Linked DNA regions of Homo sapiens: region 2 is linked to region 1. A link means that fine-mapping ties the variant in region 1 to the expression of a gene that starts in the linked region. Tissue or cell type: whole blood. Region 1 holds a variant in brackets; the other region holds the start of a gene. All regions are shown on one strand. Distances are between the middles of the regions. Region 1 overlaps FBXO21 (F-box protein 21). Region 2 holds the start of FBXO21 (F-box protein 21).

Region 1 (5,379 bases):
ATTTTGTGACAATTGAGAAATTTGAAAACTATTAGATATTATAAAATAATTGTTACTAGGTGTGATAATGTAATTTGGTTATGCAGAGGAATCTCCTTATACTCAGACATAATTAGGTCATGTCTGCAATATTCTTTCAAATGGTGCAGGAAAACAGTAAAATCTCTATAGATAAAGCAAATATGGGAATCATTTACTGTTGAATTGACTAGAGGGTAAATGGGGGTATTTGATGTATTCTTTTAACTGTTCCACGTGCGAGCAAGAATGATGACTTCAAAGAAGATGAACGGAAGTGGGCTGGAGTATGTCAGGCGTGGGAACCGTGCTGGGGCTGTAAGGGGAAGGCCAGATCCCTAGGGCCTGGTAAAGCATTCTGCACTGCCTGCCGATGAGAAACTCCTGATGGTCAGTCAATTCAAGCAGCAAGTGGCCCGGTCCAGGGACACGCTAGGAAGATCCTCTTGCTGTTGCTAAGGAAAATGCCCGGTTGGGGACAGGCCGGGAGGCAGGTGCCAGTTAGGAAGTAGGCAAGCAGAGACCACCAGAATGGAAATGGGAGACACATGAGGAGACAGCAGTGGGTGTGTAGACAGATGTATCGCGAGGGCAAGGGGAGAAGAGCAAGACACGGCCCCCACGTGGTGTCACTAGTGAGATGGGGCAGGCAGGAGCAAGGGGGGTATGGGGGCACAATGAGTTCATGTTTTTTCTTTCTTTACAGAGATAATCGAGTTAAAACAATGGGTTCAGTGAGTCGGGGTAACAATGTTGGAGAGAAGACCCCTGAGAGCCCTCCAAGCACACATGCCCGGGGGCTGTTACAGAGGTGGGCACGGAGCCCAGAGAAGAGCCCAGAGAACACGGCTTTGGGAGTCACCAGCACATCCACAGACACCCCAAGGGGGAAGGAGATGAAGGCCTAGAGGAGAGTCCCCTGGAGAGGGAGGACCCTGAAGACAGCCACGTATCAGGCATGCTGGGGGAGATCTGCCCCTTGGCCCAGGACTCCGAGTCCCTCAGGAAGCGCTTGCTGACACAGCGCTGATGGAGCCGCCGGCAGAAGACGGGAACTCTCATAGTGTAGGAACAGCTTTGAAGTTCTACGTTTTAAATTCAAGAAGCCAATTTGCTAACATTACCCATCATTTAGTTCCATCTCAATTTAACAGATGGTAAAACCAACAAGCAGATATTAATTTTTTCAGTAATGACAATTTTATGACTAAACCTTACATTGCATGTTTACCTAGATATGATTAGAGATCAACTTCTGAAGTGAACATATCACAACCCCTAAAACCAAATACTTAAGACCAACCCTAAACAGTGAATAATGATGCCATGTGGTAAAGCCATAGACACTGGCCCACGGTGTTGTTGAAAAGAAAATGCTCATTTATTCTTGTGAACGCCATTTGTTGTAGGCTATCAAGCGTTTACCAGGTGACTTGTGCTGGCACCAGTGGCCCAGTGAATCAGTCAATAATGTCCAAATCATGTGTTGATTTTTAGAGATTGTTTATATTCGACACAGCTTCAAAAGTTAAATAACATTACCGTTGGTGCCTCCATCTGCCACAGGGAGCACAGAAACCCCTTACACCATCCCCATCACACTGAGACAGGGCAAGCGACCTGCAGTTTCAACAAACATTTATCTTGATGCTGCTGTTCCAGGGGATCCTTTCAGTTTCTGATTAACTGACAATAATCATTATTTTCCAGCCTTTTATTTTAAGATGAGGTCTCACTCTGTCACCCAGACTGGAGTGCAGCAACACAATCAGAGCACACTGTAGCCTTCACTTCCCAGGCTCAAGTGATCCTCCCAACCCAGCTTCCTGAATAGCTGGGACCACAGGTGTACACTACTCTGCCTGGCTAATTTTTAAATTTTTTTGTAGAGATGGGGTCTTGCTGTGTTGTAGCTGGGAACACAGGTGCACATGACTCTGCCTGGTTAATTTTTAAATTGCAGAGATGAGGTCTTGCTGTGTTGCCCAGGCTGGTCTCCAACTCCTGAGCTCAAGCAATCCTCCTGCCTCACCCTCTCGAAGTGCTGGGATTATAGGTGTGAGACACCTCACCTGGCAATCTCCAGCCTTTCAGAAAGTTCTGAGGTTTTTATACATCCCATATTTTGATTATTGGATTTATCAGAACATAATATTGAGTTAGGTCAAAACTCAGACATGAGCAGGTACAGCATGATGGATGAAGAGGAGGCTCTGTCAAGCTGCCTGGCTTCAAATCGTGTTCTCTAAGTTAAAATCTCAATGGCTTCCCTGTGCCTCAGTTTCCTCACCTAGAAAATGATGATGATGATGTTTCTCAAATGGAGTTAATATACATTAGAATGATGTCCGTCACAGAATGGCACTACATTAGCATTCACATTCATTTTTATTAATAAATGTGAATTATTAATTAATCAATGTGAATGCTTTGACAGACATACACTGAATTCATCCTATTAAGTAGAGGTGAAATTCAACAGGAACAAAGAGAAGGGAGACTCACACTGAAGGCATTCTTGTCTCTTACCAGCTTCCACAGGCTCTGTCAGTCTCCACCTCAGCCTTGCCCTGGGCTGGCACCTGCCGGGGCGGCAGTGGCCCAGACGCCTACCCAACCTTACTGTACACTTGCGGGCTCTCAGGTGCTCCCAGGGCCGGCGCAGTGGGCTGCAGTTCCCACAGGTGGCCACACGAGGGCATCTCCGGCGTCAGCCGGCAGCCACAGCCTTGGGAGGCCAGGGAGCACTAGGGGGCCCCCAGGTGTTCATCCGGTTCCCTTCTAGTCTGGGAGGAGCCGAGGGCAGGGTCCAGGAGGCAGGACTTACAGGAATTTGATTGGCATAGACAGTGGCCAATCAGATGTCCGGGCTGTGGGAGCGGAGGCCCTGGGGGAGGGCGGGTATGACTACTGACCCCTCGCCAGGGCGGCACCTGTGCAGACCCAGCCACGTTTAGCTGACTGTGGGCCCGAAGGAGGCCGGCCATGGGGCGTCGGCCGCCTCTGAAGGAACCGATGGCCCACGCCCACAGTACCTACCCGAGGGCTCAAACGTGCGCTGAAAACACGCCCGCGGGGCCACTGGCACAAGCGGAACCCGCCGCTTACCTTGGGCTGCGTATCGACAGGAGCCGTCCTCCACCAGCACGTTATAGAAAGGCTGGTGGTGGCCGTGCGGCAGGCTGTGGACGTTCATGTTCCGGATCCACTCGTGTCCCATCATGCAGGTGGGGTCCCAGCCGTAGATCACACAGTTATAGCCATACCTAGTTAACACAGGAGGAGCAGTCAGTCCCTGCAGACCCGGCCGCAACAACCTCCAGACAACCGCGTGGCTTCTCAGCTCACATCCTCAGTTACCTGCTTTACTCCACGGTGAATCATTTTTCAGGACACC[C/T]CTAACCCCTTTTATAAACACCTCTTATTATCAACATAGCACTTTATCTGGAAAAGAATAAACTTTTCAACAAAAAGTGATTAGATGACAACTGGTTACCCAAAAGAAAAAGGTATGGGGACCTGGCCTGACAACAGCACACCAAATTCAATTCTCAGTACAGCAAAGACTCAGGTGTTAAATGCAGAACTTCTAAAATAGAAAGTATCTTCATGACTCAAGATAGGGAAGGTTTGTTAAAACAAGGCACTAAAAATACAGCCGTAAAGGAAAAGACTAACCAATCTGACATCACTAAAACCAAGAGACTAACAAATCCTGATCCAAACATGTAAAAATATGAGACAACTGGGGAAATAGGAACTCTCATTAGATACTGCATGAAGTTAAGGAACTGGGGTTTTCTAGATGTGATAATAAGATGTTAAATATGAAAAGACAGAGAAGGAGAGAGCACCCCTGCCTTTTAGAGGTACATACTGAAATCGCTACAGGTGAAATGGCATCTGGCACTTGCGTCAATTAACCCAGGGAGGAAGGTCTGGAGGGTGCAGGGGACAGTAAGATTCACCCCGTATGGCAGCTGTTGAGGCTGGATGACAGGAACACCACCTGGTTCCTTATAGTCCTTTCTCTCTTATAAATCTTTGCAAATTTCCATTTAAAAGTTTAAAAAAATGCAATAAAGAATGAAAACCACCAGCCAAAAACTGGGAAAAGATATTTGCAACTTATCGTCATGTAGATACTGATACACAGAAGAACAACTACATATCATATTAGGGAGGACTAATAACTCAATAGAAAAAAATACACGAAATGGGCTGGGTGTGGTGGCTCACGCCTGTAATCCTAGTACTTTGGGAGCCTGAGACGGCAGATCACTTGAGGTCAGGAGTTAGTGACGTGCCTGGCCAACATGGTGAAACCCTGTCTTTACTAAAACACAAAAAATTAGCCAGGCGTGGTGGTGTGCGCCTGTAGTCCCAGCTACCTGGGAGGCTGAGGCATGAGAGTCGCTTGAACTGGGAGGCAGAGGTTGCAGGTGAGCTGAGATACAACACTGCACTCCAGCCTGGGCAACAGACCCAGACTGTCTCCAAAGAAAAAAAAAAAAAGAAAAAAAGAAAAGAAAAATGAAATGTTTGAATAGGCGCTTAATAAAAGGAAATTTGGAACTTGGATAGCCAGTAAATATATGAAAAGAACCTTAACGTGTTTAGTAACCCAGGAAACAGAAATTAAAACCACAGTGAAACACTATTTGCCCTTTCTCAGGTAAGTACACTTTTAAAGGTCTGGCAATAGCACCAGGCGAGAATAGGAACTCCAGGCTCCCAGCCTGCTGGTGGGATGTAAACTGCTCCAATCACTTTGGATACAGTTTAATTTTGCCTGGTAAATAGACCAAGTGCCTATCGGATTTGAAGAGACTGAGATTAAGTGACAAGATATAAGAACAATGAGGAAATGAGAGAAAAAACTCGTGTCTTACAAAGTTACTTCCATGTTCTCACACACAGAGAAGGGTCAAACATCTAAAGGCCACTAAAAACACTAGAAGATCTCTCAGGAAAGTAAGCTGCTGCTTAAAAAACACAAAGGTCAAAGACACGGTTCAAAAAGAAAAAAAAAGAGGTTCAGCTTTCTGTCTTCCCCGCGGTGCGCACTCGGGGGATAAGTGATCCAGTCAGCTCCTCCTCCACTGTGTCCTGGGGGCTCACCAGGTGCATGTGTGTCTCTGCAGCCCCTCTGGAACGGACACTGCAGGACAGATGATCCCGGGCACTCACCTCTTATGCTTCATAATGAGCCCGATGGAGTAGCAGACATCTCTGTGCTTCTCATCGGAGCGCAGCTTCACCTCTACGCCCACCTCCTCCTTTTTGCGCTCAATGTGCTCTAGAGTGTGCTGCACCAGGTAGCCCACCGCCCCGTGCTGCCCCGGGTCTAGGGTTTGGATG
Region 2 (5,379 bases), 35 kb after region 1:
ATCCCAGCTACTCGGGAGGCTGAGGCAGGAGAATCACTTGAACCTGGGAGGCAGAGGTTGCGGTAAGCTGAGATCACACCATTGCACTCCAGCCTGGGCAACAAGAGTGAAACTCTGTCTCAAAAAAAAAAAAAAAAAAAAAAAAAAGATCTTCTGAGTTTAAAATTCTATGGCTTCTCTCAGTTTTCTTTTTGCAAGTAGCCAGAACATTTCAGGTCAACCTGTGTGCATTCTGAGAACACAGGAACGCCAAGATCCCGGGCCAAAGCAATCACCCACCCACAGATTAATGTTAAGTATGCTCCCGCTGTGTTCAAAGTCCTTGACATACTTCTAATTAAGCAGTGGTACAGGAAAAGGGGGAGCTGAGGAAAAAACACAACAATCCATCATTATTACACAGAGGCACAGACTGTTCAAAACATACACAAAACCAGCTGGACTAGAAATGGAGGTTGCAGGCTCATAGTCCATGACCAACTGCACCAAACATAGCTAGTACCAAAATCTACGTATGTGCAAACACATTCAGATCAGCATTTACAATTTGTGATTATGAATGCTTTTAGCCAGGGCATGGCTTCTCCAAAGTAAAATACAAATTTTGTTTATTCTAACACTAATAAATATTTATAGAAACCAATTACACTAAGGAATGTCTATTTGTATTCTCCATAGGGGAAAACATTCAAATTTGTCCAAAGTTCAAATTTTCCCTTTCAAAACTTGAAAAGCCTTGAAAACATTTCAAATTATTAACTCCATTAACTAACAGTAATTAAAATTAGAGAATCCAAAGGAGTCTTTAGGAAAACAAAAAAGTGAAATAAATCAGATTGGCTCTATTTCTAGAACCCCAACCAGAAATAAATATCGAATAGTTTGTTGAACTCAAAACATTAGTGTGGATTATTTTCCAGAGTTACAAAAAGGGATCAGGGGCAGATACAGAAACTTCCGTGAGGCCAGGCACGGTGGCTCACGCCTGTAATCCCAACACTTTGGTTTGCAGAGGCCGGCGGATCACTTGAGACCAGGTGTTCAAGACCAGCCTGACCAACATGGTGAAACCCCAACTCTACTAAAAATACAAAAATTATCCAGGTATGGTGGCGCATGCCTGTAGTCCCGGCTACTCGGGAGGCTGAGACATGAGAATTGCTCGAGCCCAGGAGTAGGAGGTTGCAGTGAGCTGAGATTGCGCCACTGCACTCCAGCCGGGGAGACAAAGCAAGACTCTGTCTCAAAAAAAGAAAAAAGAAAGAAACTTCCATGAGACATTTTGAGGAAAGAAAAAAAGAAAACAAAACAAAACAAAACAAAAAAAACCCACCATGTATTTCTGCAATACTTAAAAAAAAAAAAAAACCCAAAAACTTTTCAGGGATAATGAATGCAAGACAATTCATTTCAGGGAGTAATAACTCTGATTTATAGGTAGCTTTTAATCCTCTGTTACCTTAACAAATAATGCAGTTCACTACTGGGTAGAACCTGCAAAGCCAGAGAGAAGAACCACATTAATTTCGTCAACCCTTCTGGGAAAACAACCGGGAGAAATTTACAGTGTTCAATCATTGATGATTCCCCAAATAACGGAGGGGTTGCAAAAAAAATCCGTTGAACCCATTTGAGAAATAATGCTGATCTGGACTCCGTCTACATTGTGCTGCGTGGGTCCCTCCCTGCTCCCTCCACCCCCACTCTCTCTCTGGCTTTAGAAAAGTAAAGCTGGCACAGACAAATGGCTTCGTGTTGTTGGATAGGAGGAAAAGGACACAATGACTCTTGCAGCCATCTAAGTGAGTAAGGGATTGTGAGAGCATTGAAAAGGGAGATACGAAAAGAGCTGGATGAGCTCATGCCTGCAGACCCAGACACATACACCAGCAAGCCAAAGCTTAGAGCCACATCAACAGATCCTTACGTGCTCTGAAAAGAACCTCTTTGAGAACGAGGCTACAATCTTCCGCGCTTCTAACCCAGCTTTTTGCCGAACTTTATACTCTTCCAACCAATTGACGTAGTCGGTGGGGCTGTAGTGTTTCATAAGGGAAGGCCACCTACGAGGAGAGAAACACCCCCTCAGCTTAACAGAAACTCAAAGGCAGGCGGCCACGAATCCAAGGCAGCCTTGGAAACAGGGACAGCAGTGGCGTCCAGTGGTAAGAGGGACCCCGGCGAGAGACCTAGTTCAAAACCCCACCAGCATTCACTCACTCACTCCCGGTGTGACCTTGGCGTAGCGGCATGAATGATGTCTCCATTCCCCATCTCTAAAATGGGGACAGTTGTAACAACAACAACAATAATAATAATGACAATGACAGTGAGCACTGATTGAGCGCCTCCTAGGAGCCGGGGCCCTGCGTGCGTGCCTCCCGGACATCATCTAATTTAATAAACACGGTGAAAGGTAGGTCTAATGATCACCACCACTCAAAGTCTATGAACGAGGCTCAAAAAAAGGGAAGTCGCTCCCCCCAAGGTCACAGAGGGAGTGTGCAGGGCCAGATTTCATCCTGGGGCCACGCTGAAATCTGTGCCGTCCACAACCAGCCCGGGGATGCTGCGCCCGCCCGATCGATGCATCACTGGGTCCATGTAAACATTTCAGCCCGAAGTCGGGCACAAAAGAAGCGCGCAAAAGGGACGAGCCGCGCCGCCGCCAGCGTCACCCTTGACGGAGGACCCGGCTGCGAGGCGCTCCTAGATGCGCCATTTGGGGACCCGGGGGTCCGCCTGGCGTGGCCCCGCAGGGTCCGGGGCCTGGAGGCCTTTGTCTGTCTGTCCGCGGGAAGGGGTCCGGGGTGGGGTCCGCGCGCGGGGCGGCCGCGGGGAGCTAGCGGGGCGGCTGCCCGGCCCCGGGGGGCGCGGGGCGGTGGGCGCGCAGCCGGGGCGCGGGGCCGCTGGCTCACCTCACCCGGAACTGCTCCTTCCACACCTTCCCGCTGCTCTGGCACAGCTCGCGCAGCCGCCGGCAGGTGCTGGAGACACGGCCGATGTCGGCGGCCGTCAGCGAGCCGCAGCACAGGATGTACTCCAGCACCTCACCCGGCAGGTTGACGAGGCAGCTGAGGCCCGCTACCTCCGGCGCGGCCTCCTCCGCCAGCGCCGGCACCACCTCCATCGCGCTGTCGACTGCTGCCGCCGCCATCTTGTCCGCGTACCTGGGGCCGCCGCGCGCGCGCGTGCGAGAGTGCCCGGGCGCCCCGCCTGGCCCCGCCTACTGGTCTTGGGGGCGAGTCCTGAGATCGCTCCGCCCATCCGCGGGCCACACCTCCCCTGCATCGGCTGGGGGCTGCGCGGGTGGCAGCGCCGCAAAAGGGAGGACATAATTGGGCTCTGTGCTTGGAGCCGGCAGCGCAAGCCGCCTCTAGTCCGGGACAACAATAGTAGCACTGATTCTTTTAAACGTAATTAATGTTTAAAATTAACAAATAAAAATGGTATCTATTCTCACGCGTGCTGAGCGCTTTCTGTGCGCATTGGACCTTTCCGAATTACCCTGCGAACTTTCTCCCCATATTACAGATGGGGAAACAGGTTCGGAGAGTGAGAGGGCTTGCTCAGGATCCCTTGTCTTGGATTTTTTTTCCCCCTTTGGGAAGGAGTCTTGCTCTCACCCAGGCTGGAGGGCAGTGGCGCTATCTCGGCTCACTGCAACCTCTGCCTCCTGGGTTCAAGCGATTCTCCTGCCTCAGCCTCCCGTGCGGATGGGATTACAGGCGCGCGCCACCACCCAGGTTGGAGTGCAGTGGCCGTGATCTCGGCTCACTGCAACTTCCACCTCCCTGGTTCAAGCAATTATCCTGCGTCAGCCTCCCGAGTAGCTGGGATTACAGGCGCCCGCCACCACAGCCAGCTAATTTTTGTATTTTTAGTAGAGACAGGGTTTCACCATGTTGGTCAGGCTGGTCTCGAACTCCTGACCTCAAATGATCCACCCACCTCGGCCTCCCAAAGTGCTGGGATTACAGGCGTGAGCCACCGCGCCCAGCCCCTTGTCTTGGATTCTATTTCAGATCCACTTGACTTTTGCTTGTCAGTAATCTTAACCATATGATGTAATAATAACAATATTCTTGAGTGGGTGCTATGGGAAGCCCTCTATGATGGTGTAGGGGAGTAATAATAATCCTCAAATGTGTGCCCTGATTTTAGGCTAATAGAGGGCAGGCAGAGAGCTCTCCTGTACTGGTTTCTTAATTGTTTCCAGCTCAACAATCCTTCATATTTGGGGAGCATAGTCTGACCTCCCACAATAGGTACCACAGTTATACCTATTCTACAGAAAAGGCAAAGTTCTTCCAGGTGGCAGTCACTGGTTCAAAGTTACAGAGACAAAAGTGCTAAAGCCTGGATTTGAGTCTTCAAAGCGGGAGTTATCACTCAGGATTGGGAGGGTAGTCTCAGGATCTGCACATTAAAAAAAAAAAATCAGTTTAGTTCAGTGCCAAAGCCCTGTGTTGTGTGCCCTGGGGATACAGGGGTGAGAAAAATGGAGTCTTTGCTTCAAAACCTCAAAGTGCAATTACAGTTAGAAGGATCTGTTGTCAGTACATGGAGGGTCCAATGAAGTACTCCTGGCAACTTGGAAATCAAGATGCCCTGAGAGAGCTGAACTAGTAAAGTGACTCTCAATGGATGGCGTTGAGCCATCTGTGGCTCCCTATTTCCCGTAGAAATGAATGTGACATCCCAAACATTGTTGCAAAGCAACAAACTCCACCTCTTCTTACCTATCTGAAGTCTTTCTCTCTCACTAGCCATGCATACCCCAGCAAGGCTGGTCATCTCTTTCCTCCCATTTCTGGCCCTACATATACTATTCCTGCTGCCTGCAAGGCACTTCATGCAGTCCTCCCCTTCCAGTAGCTCCTCCTCTTCCTCCAGGGCTCAGCTTAACCTTTCCAAATGCTCTCCCTTCCCCCGCCCCAGCACCAGCACCAGATATGGCTCCTGCCCAGCATTTTGCAGTCTTGTAATTACTTAACTTACAACTATTCAACATGCATCTTTCCCACTAAATCTGAAGGGAGTTCAGTGCTAGGACTGTGTCTGAGTCACCTCTAGAAGCCTAGTTACTTGACCCATGCCCTGCACAGAGCAGATTCTCAATTATCTATTGATTGCGATAGTCTAACCAGCTGTTTGACTAGGGAAGTTACTTAGCCTTTCTGAGGCCCAGTTTTTTATCTGTAAAATGGGAATAATAATTAATAATAATAATGCCTGTCTCCTGGGGCTGTCATGAGAATTAAATGAGGAAATTCATGTGAGGGGCATAGAACAGTGGCTGGTATAGAAAAAATCCTTGAGCCGGATGCGGTAGCTCACACCTGTAATCCCAGCACCTTGGGAGGCCAAGGCAGGCAG

What was found. PIP is the estimated chance that this variant, and not a neighbour inherited with it, causes the effect.
Region 2: it holds the start of FBXO21, and the variant in region 1 is fine-mapped to the expression of FBXO21 in whole blood (TOPMed, PIP above 0.99).

Annotation. Positions count from the first base shown.
Region 1 is chr12:117,152,665-117,158,043 of GRCh38, forward strand. FBXO21 (F-box protein 21) reads right to left here. Exons shown (of 12, transcript NM_015002.3): 10 at 5,209-5,379; 11 at 3,127-3,284. Among named protein-coding and RNA genes, the nearest start is that of FBXO21, 35 kb to the right of the region's middle. RefSeq lists a silencer at 2,617-2,796. The variant C/T (reference allele first, on the strand shown) is at 3,416.
Region 2 is chr12:117,187,300-117,192,678 of GRCh38, forward strand. FBXO21 (F-box protein 21) reads right to left here and starts at 3,171. Exons shown (of 12, transcript NM_015002.3): 1 at 2,919-3,171; 2 at 1,928-2,063. The coding sequence starts at 3,157. RefSeq lists an enhancer at 2,298-2,387 and silencers at 2,858-2,907, 3,188-3,287, 3,328-3,387.